Linked DNA regions of Homo sapiens. The protein of the gene in region 2 purifies or fractionates together with the protein of the main gene of each other region. This does not show direct contact. Each region holds a gene or a part of one and is shown on either strand. Other genes may lie near its edges.

Region 1 (4,405 bases), on a different chromosome or scaffold from region 2:
TGATTAGAAAGGCTTCCAAATAAATAATTACTTCTTTGTGTTCTTGCCTTTAATACCAAATATAAGAAGTCACTAAATTTGTTTTTAAAATATTTTTCAGTGAAATAGAGGTTAATGCTATGAAAAATAGCAGTGTAAAATTCACAGTATCTGCCATAAATCACCAACCATCATCACGGACTCTGAAAAAGAAAATGATGGTTTTATACACAATGATATTTATATAATATCCTTCTTTTTTCCCAGTATAAAACTTCCAAGTGAGCATGCTCTCTGATTCCCAAATGTCTAGCTTATTTTCTACTCTACTGAACTTTCTGGACCTCTCCCTATCAGTAAACTTAGATGAAATAGTAGAGAACATGATAAAATTCTCTAGAACACTCATGTAAGAAGTTTCTTTAAAAAAAATCATTGCAACAAAATACGGCAAGAGAGTATTTTAACCATGGTTCTCAGAGTTTCAACGTAAAGAATAGCTGTTTCACATTTTTATTCCTTTAATGTTCGTGGCCAGAGATAAAACAAATTTTGCCACATATTCAGCAAAACATTTAAGATTGTGCTTTAAGTGCTGAATTAATAGCATGCATAGCAGTGTGTGTGTATATAAATATATAAAATGTGTGTGTGTGAGTAATTGGTCATCCTATCTTTCAAATAGATTAAAAAATTTAACTTCTAGTAGAAAATGATTTTTTAATTTATCAAACAAAAGAGGTTTAAGAGTTGGTAAAGCACCTTCTTGCGTCAGGGCCTCTGCGCTCACAGGTGCTTCTGTCTGGCCTGCTGTAAACTGCAAATACCTTCGTGGTTCATTCCCTTATGACCTTCAGATTCCTATTCTAATACTGTCTGTCCAGAGAGAACTTCCCTGATTATCCTTATGAGAATGGATACCACCTCCATTCTCAGGGATCCTATTATGCCTCCTGATTTATTTTTCTCCTAGCATTTATCATTATTTAACGTACCATATGTTTTGCTAAGCTACTTATTAATTTGTCTGTTTTCCTACACTAAAACGTAATTTTCAGGGCAGGAATTTCATCTATTTTGTTTACTTAAAAATAACCCCAGCATCTCAAACAGGGTCTGACATCTAAGAGATGCTCAATAAATATTCATTACATGAACTATATACACCGACTATATACAAGATACAGACCACCCTCTTTTGCATAATGATTACTAGAAAATTTATTTCAGCTTCCTATGTGGTGTATCATGGCTTGTTGAGATGTTAAATGGAACAATAGTAGTTTTCCAGTTGATTTATTTTTTGTTTATGAAATTTTAAAATGCTCCTTTAACATGATAAATTGCCTCTTGCAGACATCCATCATCATTAATATGTTGAGTGTGTGTGTGTGTGTGTGTGTGTGTGAGAGAGAGGCTCATGTCCTGATTCATAAAAATCTGTTTCTGTGTTTTTAACAAAAGCTATTAGTACCTACCAGTATAATATGTTTGTATTATTAACATGAAGGTGTTGGCCACAAACCACTTTTCTTTGGGAATCTTGGAATGAATTCAATGAACAGAAAAAGCAGGACTAACCTGATCTTCATTCTTACTGGCAGCATCTGGGATGAAAATATAGAAACCAAAGTTAAGGAAATGTAAAATATTTAATAAACAAAACAAATAATCCATTTAATGCAGCATCTTGATTGCTTTAATGACAATATGTTGTAAAACCGCAAATGGTTTTTGAACACATTAAGATTTATCATGGCAAATAAAAGAAGGGCACTGGACCAGGAGATTAGTATATATACTCACAAAGGTCTAATCACTCAGAAAGTTACAATTACTTTGGAAAATAATACTCATGTGAATTCTAACCCCATCAAAATAGCTTATCTTCAAAAGGTCCTTTCGGAGTAATAAATGCCAGCCTCCCTTTTAAAATTACAATATAACATACACACAAAATACTATACCAATTATAATTTTGAAACTATATTATAGTTGAAACTATAATATAGCATTACATTTATAGGATATATACATAAAATTTAATTTTCTGAATTCTGGCAGCTCTACCTCCTTATTACAGCTGCAAAAGTTAGAGATCTGACAGAAGGTAAGATTAAGGTCACAGGCTATTATACTCTCTCATTAACATAGGCTCTTTTGTACCTACACACCTATTTTAGGAAAATGGGCATTATTTGTATATGATTTCAGACTATCTATGAGTTTCTCTTTTTAAAAATTTTAATGTTTCAGAGCAACGTAAGTCTAGGCAATTTGTGTTCTCTTAGGGTTAAATAGCAAATATAAAAATCTACCTTCCAGCTCCCACAAAAGTCCCTCACTCTTTGGGAGAAATGCTTTCAACCCATTTAGCATTTGAAAACACAAGACTAAAATAAGCTAGAAGATACCACTGCTTTAAAATAAGAACAGATGATTGAATTTTAAAAAATATTTCATTTATACCTATAACATTAAAATACATATATTATTTACAATTAAGTTTTAAATGTCTATTACATATATAAGAATATGCATTATGAATTGATACATTTAGCAAGAGGAAGATGAAGAAGAATCTATTCAGTTTTCTGAATTAATAAAGAATTAATGGAAGAATTTCTCATGGTTAGAAAATTCAGATTATCTCAAACTACTTGCCATTTCTAAAGATAACAACATAATTATAAAGCCACATATATAAATCTTCAGAACTCTGTGTCTGGCAAGACATTTCAGGATTATACATGCATACGTAAACATTTTTTGGCAGGAGTAGGGGGAGAAAAGTCCCTTCCCCAGGGCTTTGAGATGTGTGGCAAGAGGCTTAGATTACACACAAATTGCTCACCTTGTATGAGGCAAAGAGCCAAGGGCAGAAGCACTGACACTGTGGCTATCTTCATGTTGAAGACGATGCAAGTCGCCTACAGGTCCACTCCATGCATTGCTCAGCTGGTGCAGTATGACTGAACTCGGGGCGATGCAGTTTACTTTTATAAAGCACTGGTGACACCCACATAAAACCAGTTGTTCAAGGTCATGGGACTTATATACCACACCACTTTAGCTTCCATCCTTTAGGATCCTGTCAGGGTGTCAGGTTTGAACAGAGAATATCTATTTCTAAAGTAGGAATGTTCTTTCATGGTACCTCCCCCAGAACGCAATTGATGGAGTCCACAGACCCTACTCAAAGTTGAATATTCTATAATCCTATATAATAACCGAATTCCTCAGAAATACCAGATATACTACCTCGTAGACAAACATGTTTCTGACTGGACTCCCTTCATAAGTGGGAGAGGAGAGGAAAGGAAGACAGATTGGTTGTCCTACCAGTCAGGTATAGATTTAAAGATTTCCACATCCAGAGAAATCCAGGGTTCCTGTTCTGAAGTGTCTGAGTTCAGTGTCACAGACTCATATATATGTTAGAGTTGAACGACCCTAAAAGATAACCTGGCAAAATTCTAATGTTGAATATATAGGGAGGCAGGAACTCAGAGGAGCAATGACTTTCTCATAAGCAGACAGTTTAGTTGGAGCAGGCAGAGGAGGCATCCAGCACTTGCAAGCAGACCACACATATAACATTCTTTCCTCTCTGTACACTGCTTCATCCTTAGACATTAGAAAAGGCAGGAACGTTGGAAAAATAAAACTTGTATGTAACTACTTTTAAAACTTCTCAATCTGCAGGATATTTTATATTCTGAAGCCTTATTTTATATCCTAGCCAAACATCATAATCATAAACATTGGAGACTCAGTTTAACTTTCCATAGCCTATGATTACCCATATTACCGTTTGAAAAATTTGGCTCAATCAGTTTTCTCTAAATCATATTTCTTCCTGTATCATCCCATTATTTAGTCTCCCAAAAAGAAAAGAAGAAAAAAGTTGTTAACAATTATAAATGTGTAAATGTAACATTTTTCTAGAGAAAGTTTCTTCTCTTTAGTTGCTTCTTTCATCCTACAAGTAACACCTTTTTTCTACCAGCTTATTTTGCCCTAATAGCTTAAGAAAGCACCTGAAGAAACATGTGAAGATGACTGAAACCAGAGCCAAATTGTTTCATTCCAGTACTTCTCAAGATATTCACATCCACAGAAGAAAAGTTCGAGACTTTATCCAATTAAAGGCCTTTTTATGATGGTTCCAGAAAACTGATCAAAGTTGCCCAACTTAGGGAGTATGCCAATATTATGAGATTTATCACAGTGAGATAATACGTCCTTTCTTTTTTCTCTCATGAAATAATTTATTTCCTATAAAAATATAATCACTGGGCCAGGCACAGTGTATCACGCCTGTAATCCCAGCACTTTGGGAGGCCAAGGCTGGCGGATCATGAGGTCAGGAGATCGAGACCATCCTGGCCAAGATGGTGAAACCCCATCTCTATTAAAATACAAA
Region 2 (3,588 bases):
GAGACACGGTCTCACTCTGCACCCAAGCTGGAGTGCAGTGGTGTAATCACGGCTCACTGCAGCCTCAACCTCCTGGGCTCAAGTGATCATCCCACCTCAGCCTTGCAAGTAGCTAGGACTACAGACATGCACCATCATGTCTGGCTAATTTTTTAATTTTTTATAGTGACAGGGAACTCCCTCTGTTACCTAGGCCAGTCTCGAATTCCTGGGCTCAAGCCATCCTCCTGCCTTGGCCTCCCAAAGTGCTGGGATTGTAGACGTGAGCCACCACATCTGGCCACTACCTGTACTTTGATTGTGTGAGCCAATTCTAGCTGGAATGGGAATATGGCACTCTCAGCCAAGTGGATGGGCTGTAGTTCTGTTATGAGACACAGATGACTGGTACCAGTATATATAATGGGTGGTAGCGGTAGCTGCATATTTGTCAGAAATTGAAGCCTCTTTGGGTGGCAGTTCTCCCCCCAACTCCCAATAACTCAAATTCAGAAATATATCTTACACAGCAAAATCTGTTATTAAAATTAAACATTTTATTATATAACAAGAGTTAAAGTTTTTGAAAATTAACATCAACAAAACCAAAGCCATTCTAGGCACAACCAAAAATTTTTACTATCAAAACTACCTCTCACTTTTCAGAAATCTGACTGAAAACAAATGGTTGAATGTGCTGCTAACAGAGAGGGCCAAACGATGATGTCTATTGTGGCAGCTGAACAAAGTGAGACTTACAGAACTGGAACTGCTGCCCTGACAGCAACTGAAGCAGAAAGAGAAGAAAGGAGCTTACAACCAGGACACTCAAACTCAGGCCAGGAGTCCGTCTATGATCCAATTCCAATCAGTCTGACAAGTCACTCTGATCCAGCACGATTATCCTATGCACATGTTTTTTAAAGAACAAAAAAGGAAGTTTCGAGTTGGTATGTGTGTTTTTTAAAGACACAAACCACATCCTCTTTCTATTCAATTAAATTCAAGGGAAAGGAATTTTGGTCTTTATAATCAAGGGCGATTATAACCAACAGTGTGTCATGGAAATGCAAAATGACTACAGAGCAATTGACAGCAGCATCTTCTGTATTCTCTCCATATTAAACCTGTTCTTTTTTTTTTTTTGAGACGGAGTCTTGCTCTTATCCCCCAGGTGGAGTGCAATGGCGCGACCTCGGCTCACTGCAACCTCTGCCTTCCGGGTTTAAGCGATTGTCCTGCCTCAGCCTCCTGAGTAGCTGGGATTACAGGTGCCTGCCACCATGCCCGGCTAATTTTTGTATTTTTAGTAGAGACGGGGTTTCACCATGTTGGCCAGGCTGGTCTCGAACTCCTGACCTCAGGTGATCTGCCCGCCTCGGCCTCCCAAAGTGCTGGGATTACAAGTATGAGCCACCGTGCCTGGCCTAAAACTGTTCTTATGCTGACTCTATCACTTATTGAATCAAAGTTGGCATTAATTTCACTTTATAGTTTAATTAACTATAAACACTAACATTTTAAAAATTAAGCAACTTTGTCTAAATTGGAGTCTTTGTCATTAATGTGTATTTAGACACTGGTAAATGTTTTTAAGTCTGCTTCTGTTGTCTATAAACATGACTTTTGATCTACAAACATCTGATATTTCATTACCTGGATGATTCGGACCAACCTAGTCGCTTCCAAAAACAGGATTTTAGTTCATCTTGATGAAATATAAGAGGAAGGAAAAAACAACATGATTAATTTCTAGGTCAAAGGGTGCCAGTATTCATATTAGTGCTCCCTCTAATTTAGAGTAGACTGTTTTACCTACAATGGTTGTTATATTCTGCCAGATAGACTCTTTCTAAAAACACAATTAATGGGCTTCCCCTCCTAACATTCTATAGTTTTCTGCCACAGCAATGGGCGCTAATGACACTAATTCACAAAGTCCCTGTATTATCTTCTCAGTGAAATCAATACTATTAATAGCTAAATGCCTACACGTTCTGGGCCCTGTGCAGTCAGGGTTCTGGAGGAAACAGAATGTACCCACGGCTGGTTCAAATAAAGATCCTTAGTGAAGTGACTACATACAGAGGTTTATTTAGAGTTAAGGGAACAAACAAGGAATGTCAAGGCATCCAGTGATTAGCAGCAGTGGGAAGCCTAAGTCTGAAGGAACTGAGTGTTGGAGATGAGAGGTCAGTTACTAGACCTTAATGAGAGCTGGAATTGGGAAGAATGGACTGCCTACAGAAGCCGCACTTGTGGAGAGACACCACTTCTACCAGGCACAAGGTGCTGAAGTAAGCAGTGAGGCAAAGTAATACCCCAAATTCTCTCTAGCCCCACTAATCTTCTGCTGGGGCCTGTCATTGGCAAACAGGAAGCCCAGGAGATGCAGTCCACTAGGGTCAGCATTCTGGGGCACAAAGCAGGGCAGAGATGGGGAGAATGAGAAGGAAATCAGGAAGAGGTGAAAGGAATACCAGATGATCTGAAAGAGTTAAAGTCTCTTACTTTCCTGAGTAGGAAGAACTTAAATATGGGAGAGCGTCATTGTAAAGGGCATATCAGAAGCCTTCAAAATCTATCAAAATAGTTTTAAAATTAAGGTTAATTTATAATTTTCACATTACTTGTAGACTCCACTTAAATTCCATAAAATATGATTTATTACTGGATTTTGAAGCATCTATGTGAGCTAAATTTAAAACTCTTTGGAAGACGTTGGACAATTAGAAGCAAAACATCGGCCGGGTACAGTGGCTCACACCTGTAATCCCAGCACTTTGGGAGGCCGAGGCAGGCAGATCACCTGAGGTCAAGAGATCGAGACCATCCTGGCCAACCTGGTGAAACCCCGTCTCTACTAAAAATACAAAAATTAGCTGGGCATGGTGGCATCCACCTGTAATCTCAGCTACTCAGGAGGCTGAGGCAGGGGAATCACTTGAACCCAGGAGGCAGAGGTTGCGATGAGCCGAGATCGTGCCACTGCACTCCAGCCTGGGCAACAAGAGTGAAACTGTCTAAAAAAAAAAGAAGCAGCAAAACGTCTCCCCAGACAACGTGCAAGATAATGATGATGAGACTGGGCAAAAGCTTGCTTTGGAAATAGAATTGGATGTTATTACTGTTTTTGTGATAAAGCTATGATTGGCAATTAACAGAAAACCTGAGCTGAACTGCAGAGAAAAATAAATTATCAAAGGTAGGAGGATTATGTATAGCATCTGGGAAACATTTCTAAATAACTTTGAAGCACATCAAAGCCCAAGGACTACAGACTACATTATAAACATACATTAATTCATACCTTCTTCAGAAGTCCCTAGAACACCCTCTGATTTCCTTCTTTCTGGTGTAATGCTATCTTCCCTTTTTCTTTTCTCTTCACCAACTTTTTGATCTTTGATATTTGTCTCCCTGTAACAACAATTATTTGGGGAATCAAAACGTATACACAACAGCCAAGAAAACAGGACTGTACTCAAAACAAAAAACAAACAACAACAACAACAACAACAAAACCATATAATAGCTAGCACTAACAAGAGTGTTCTCTATGCACCAGGCATTGGTTTAAGTGCTATAATTTAACTCATTTAATTCCCA
Region 3 (3,654 bases), on a different chromosome or scaffold from region 2:
GAATGCAAGGAGAGAGGAAAGAGTAGCTGGAGTAAGCATCAGAAGAAACATAGTTTAATAATTTAAAGTCAGGCATATCAATAAAAGTCCTACATCAAAAACATCATATTCTTCACGATCCACAGGCCGAGTGCAAAATAGATTTCCAGTGTCTCTTTCTATATAAAACAAATTTAAAGGTTCTTTATCAACTCCACGTCCACTTATTGAGTAGAAGACAGTATAGTTCTGTGCTGCATCAGATTCAACCTAAAAGTAGAAAAAAAATATGCAAAAAAATTAAAACTAAATTCAGTTACAATATTTTTTAAATGCAGCTGATGTATCTTTTTATTTTAAAGAGATAATTTCAAAAGAAAAGGTAGAAAAGAACAATAATAACCATTGTTGGCAAGAGTAAGGCAAACAGGGATTCTCACAGGAAGAAGGGAATCCCAATTGGAATGTACCCTAGGAAGAAAACTGACAAAAATTAAATGAATAAGCTATGAGGATAAACAGGGAAGGATCTTTCTGGCAGAGAAAATAGGAAGTGCAAGGGAACAGGCTGGTGTTTTACCTAGCATGTTCAAGGAGTAGCAAGAAAGCCACTGTGATTGGAGTAGAAAAAGCATGGAAAAAAGAAGTAGGAGATGAAGAGGTAATGAGGTAATAGGGGCCACATTGGAGAATTCGAGGATGCTGGCTTTTCCTTGGAGTCTAATGGAAAACCACTGGAGAATTTAGACAAGGGTAACATCATCTGATTTATATCCTTAAAGGTAATACTTGCTGTTTTGTCAAGCATGACTAGAGGTGGTTGGATGGGTAAGGAAAAAAGCAGGTAGACCACTGAGGAAGTCACTGCAAAAACCCAGAGAAGAGACTGTAGTTAGTTAGGCTAACATGATAGCCATAGGGGTGGTGAGAAGTGGTTAGATTCTGGATATAATTTAAAGGTACAGCCATCAGAATTTGCTGATGAGTTGGATGTGTGGTATAAAGATGGAAGTCAAGGACACTATGTCAGAGGGTGCTAGTATCTCTTAATATCTATTCTGCCCATCTTCCTTAGTATTAGAATTTGTAGTGATCACAAGGTTGTCCAGAAGAAAGGATTTCTCAGTCACCCTTGCAATTAGTTAGAGCCACATGCTAAGGTCAGGACAAGGGAATGTGAACAAAAATGATATGTGCAAAATCCAGTTGTGCTCTAGAAGGTGAGAGAGTGTCTTCTCCCTGTTGGACACAGAGGTGAGCCATCTGGAACCTGCAGAGACAGCCATGCTAAAAAATAAAGAAACCTGGGTCCTTGGTGTTTTTTCAGATTAGAACCTTTTTACCAGATCACACTTTTACAAGAAAGGAATAAACCTCTGTCTTGTTTAAGCCACTAGTAATTGGGATCTCAATAAAATGCACCTATTCCAATAATGTATAATAATACAGAAATCAAAAGTTTAACTATGAGAAGAATAGACATATAGGCTAAATTGAAGCTCAATATCTGTTTCATTTTCCTTCTACAGTGTCCTCTCATAATGTAGATGATAGAAATATTCAAACGAAAATAAACCAAAACCTCCAAATTTTGCAGAATCTCTTGAAACCAGAGTTCTGGATTTAAACATGGACGGTCAGACGTGCTTGAACAAGATTGGAATGCCAAAAGTGAGGTAGGCAGGTGTCTCATTTTTGCTGCTTCTGTTATTTTTGCTGGCATCACAGTTTATGTTTCTTTCTTTCTTTGAGGTAGGCAGGTGTCTCATTTTTGCTACTTCTGCTATTTTTTCTGACAGCTCAGTTCAGATGCATTGGTTTCCTTCCTTCCTTCCTTCCTTCCTTCCTTCCTTCTTTCCTTCCTTTTCTGCAATAGCATATGTACTACTAGATATTCGCCAACTTTGTGTTACAAAATAAGATACAGATCAATCTTTTCTCTGATGCTGGTTGGTGCAGTTCAGAGACTGTTCTGAAGTTTCATGAGGAGGAACATGGCTATGGTGTTTTCCTGACTGTGCCAGTGGCACTTTGGTTCTCAGAATAATGTCTTCTCTATTATGGAGAAAGCAATATGTCCCTTGGTTGTAGATACTGTGGTATAGCTAGCTTGAGGATTTGTTTCTGAAAGTTCAACCTAAAATTTGTTTCTTCAGCCCTACGGACAATTCTGAAAACTCTTTAATAAATGGTAATAAATCCTTATCTGTTAAGAACTTAGAGAGAACTATGTTTTCTGCAGCTTAAACCTTATGAAACACACTCCAATGCCCAGAGAGTCAGAATGATTGAACTCTAATCCCTGCTAATTGAGATGGGAGGCTGTTTTTAAGAGAAATAACAAGCATTTTATTTCCATAAGTTTAGTTTGAAACCCTATTAAACTTCCAAGTGTTAATATCAATTAGATAGTTTGGGCTGGAAATACAAAGTTTTAAGTATTCATGAAAAAAATAGTATTTAGAGTTATGAGATCTGATGAGATCACTGAGAGAGTAAATATCAAGAAACAAGAGGTAAGATTCATTGACTGAGCCCTGGAGCTCTCCGAAGTTTAGAGACTGGGACAGGAGGCTAGGGGGATGGATGAGGAAGATCCAGCCAAACATACGAAGGAGTGATCAATGAAGTAAGTGGAAAACTAGACGAATGGTGTCCTAGGAGCCAAATGAACAAATACTTCAAAAAGGAGGGAAAGGTGAGCTATGTCAAATGTAAATATGTCAAGGAAATGAGGACTAAGATGGTGACTGGTTTTGCAAAGCAAAGGCTAAAACTAGCTATGATTGGTACAGCTTTGGCAATTAGAAATCATTTCTTAATATGCTTCATCAGTGTTCAAGTTATAATATTCATGGAGAATAAACAAATAAAGTTATAATATTCATGGAGAATAAACAAATGTCTAGCACTAGGGTAGAATAAAAAATAAATGTGAATGACTGTGGAAGGATAGTTAAAAACTGAAACAATTAGTACACAGGTTACACCATTAGTATTAAATATCAAGCACACTATTAGAAATTTAAGGGGAAAAAGGCAAGCAAAAGGCCATAGCCCTACTTCAGTAATGGTTTCAATTGTGCATGTTCTATTACCTTAATGAGAAAACTAAACCTGATCATGTCAGTAATCTGCTTAAGAATTTCTCCTTATTATTAAGATAAAGTTAAACTTACTAGTAGAATGCACATAGTCCATAGTGGTTTGACCCCTACCTCCCTCTTCAGCCTCATCTCCCTGCTCCATTCCATCAAACCTTGGAAGACTAAGCCACCCAGAGCTCCTCTAAGGAGCTCTCACTTCTGTACTTTCCTCTTCTTCTGCAATTATTTACCTGCAGAAAAATTTTCCATTCTTCAGGACTCTACTCAGATGTCTCCTTCTCTAAGCCTTCTCTTGCTTTTTACCACCTTACCTCAGGGTTTAATGTTCATCTCATTTGTTACCAAATCACCCAACATCTCTATACTAGAATCATAGCACTCATCACTGAAAATTGTAATTATTATCCTACTTCTGTCTCCTTCACGAGGCCAATAACCCACATGAGAGCAAGGGCCATGACTAAATTTACTTATATCTTTAGTACTTAGAGCAGTACCTCCCGCAGGATATAGTTAAGTGCTCAGTAACTCCCTGCTAAATAAATGAATAAACAAATAAAGATCATTC

What was found.
Region 1: the proteins of TEX14 (region 2) and SPINK5 purify together in Homo sapiens (affinity purification with mass spectrometry; one large-scale study listed by BioGRID and IntAct). This does not show direct contact.
Region 3: the proteins of TEX14 (region 2) and DSC3 purify together in Homo sapiens (affinity purification with mass spectrometry; one large-scale study listed by BioGRID and IntAct). This does not show direct contact.

The regions. Positions count from the first base shown.
Region 1 is NC_000005.10:148,062,528-148,066,932, reverse strand, and holds the start of SPINK5 (serine protease inhibitor Kazal-type 5 isoform b preproprotein), read right to left. Parts: upstream 2,954-4,405; 5' UTR 2,889-2,953; coding exon 2,834-2,888; intron 1,587-2,833; coding exon 1,561-1,586; intron 1,527-1,560; exon of another isoform or gene 1,458-1,526; intron 1-1,457. UniProt on the Homo sapiens protein: Serine protease inhibitor, probably important for the anti-inflammatory and/or antimicrobial protection of mucous epithelia.
Region 2 is NC_000017.11:58,556,164-58,559,751, forward strand, and holds the end of TEX14 (inactive serine/threonine-protein kinase TEX14), read right to left. Parts: intron 3,400-3,588; coding exon 3,290-3,399; intron 1,688-3,289; coding exon 1,636-1,687; intron 885-1,635; coding exon 848-884; 3' UTR 515-847; downstream 1-514.
Region 3 is NC_000018.10:31,025,667-31,029,320, forward strand, and holds part of DSC3 (desmocollin-3 isoform Dsc3a preproprotein), read right to left. Parts: intron 250-3,654; coding exon 94-249; intron 1-93. UniProt on the Homo sapiens protein: A component of desmosome cell-cell junctions which are required for positive regulation of cellular adhesion. Required for cell-cell adhesion in the epidermis, as a result required for the maintenance of the dermal cohesion and the dermal barrier function.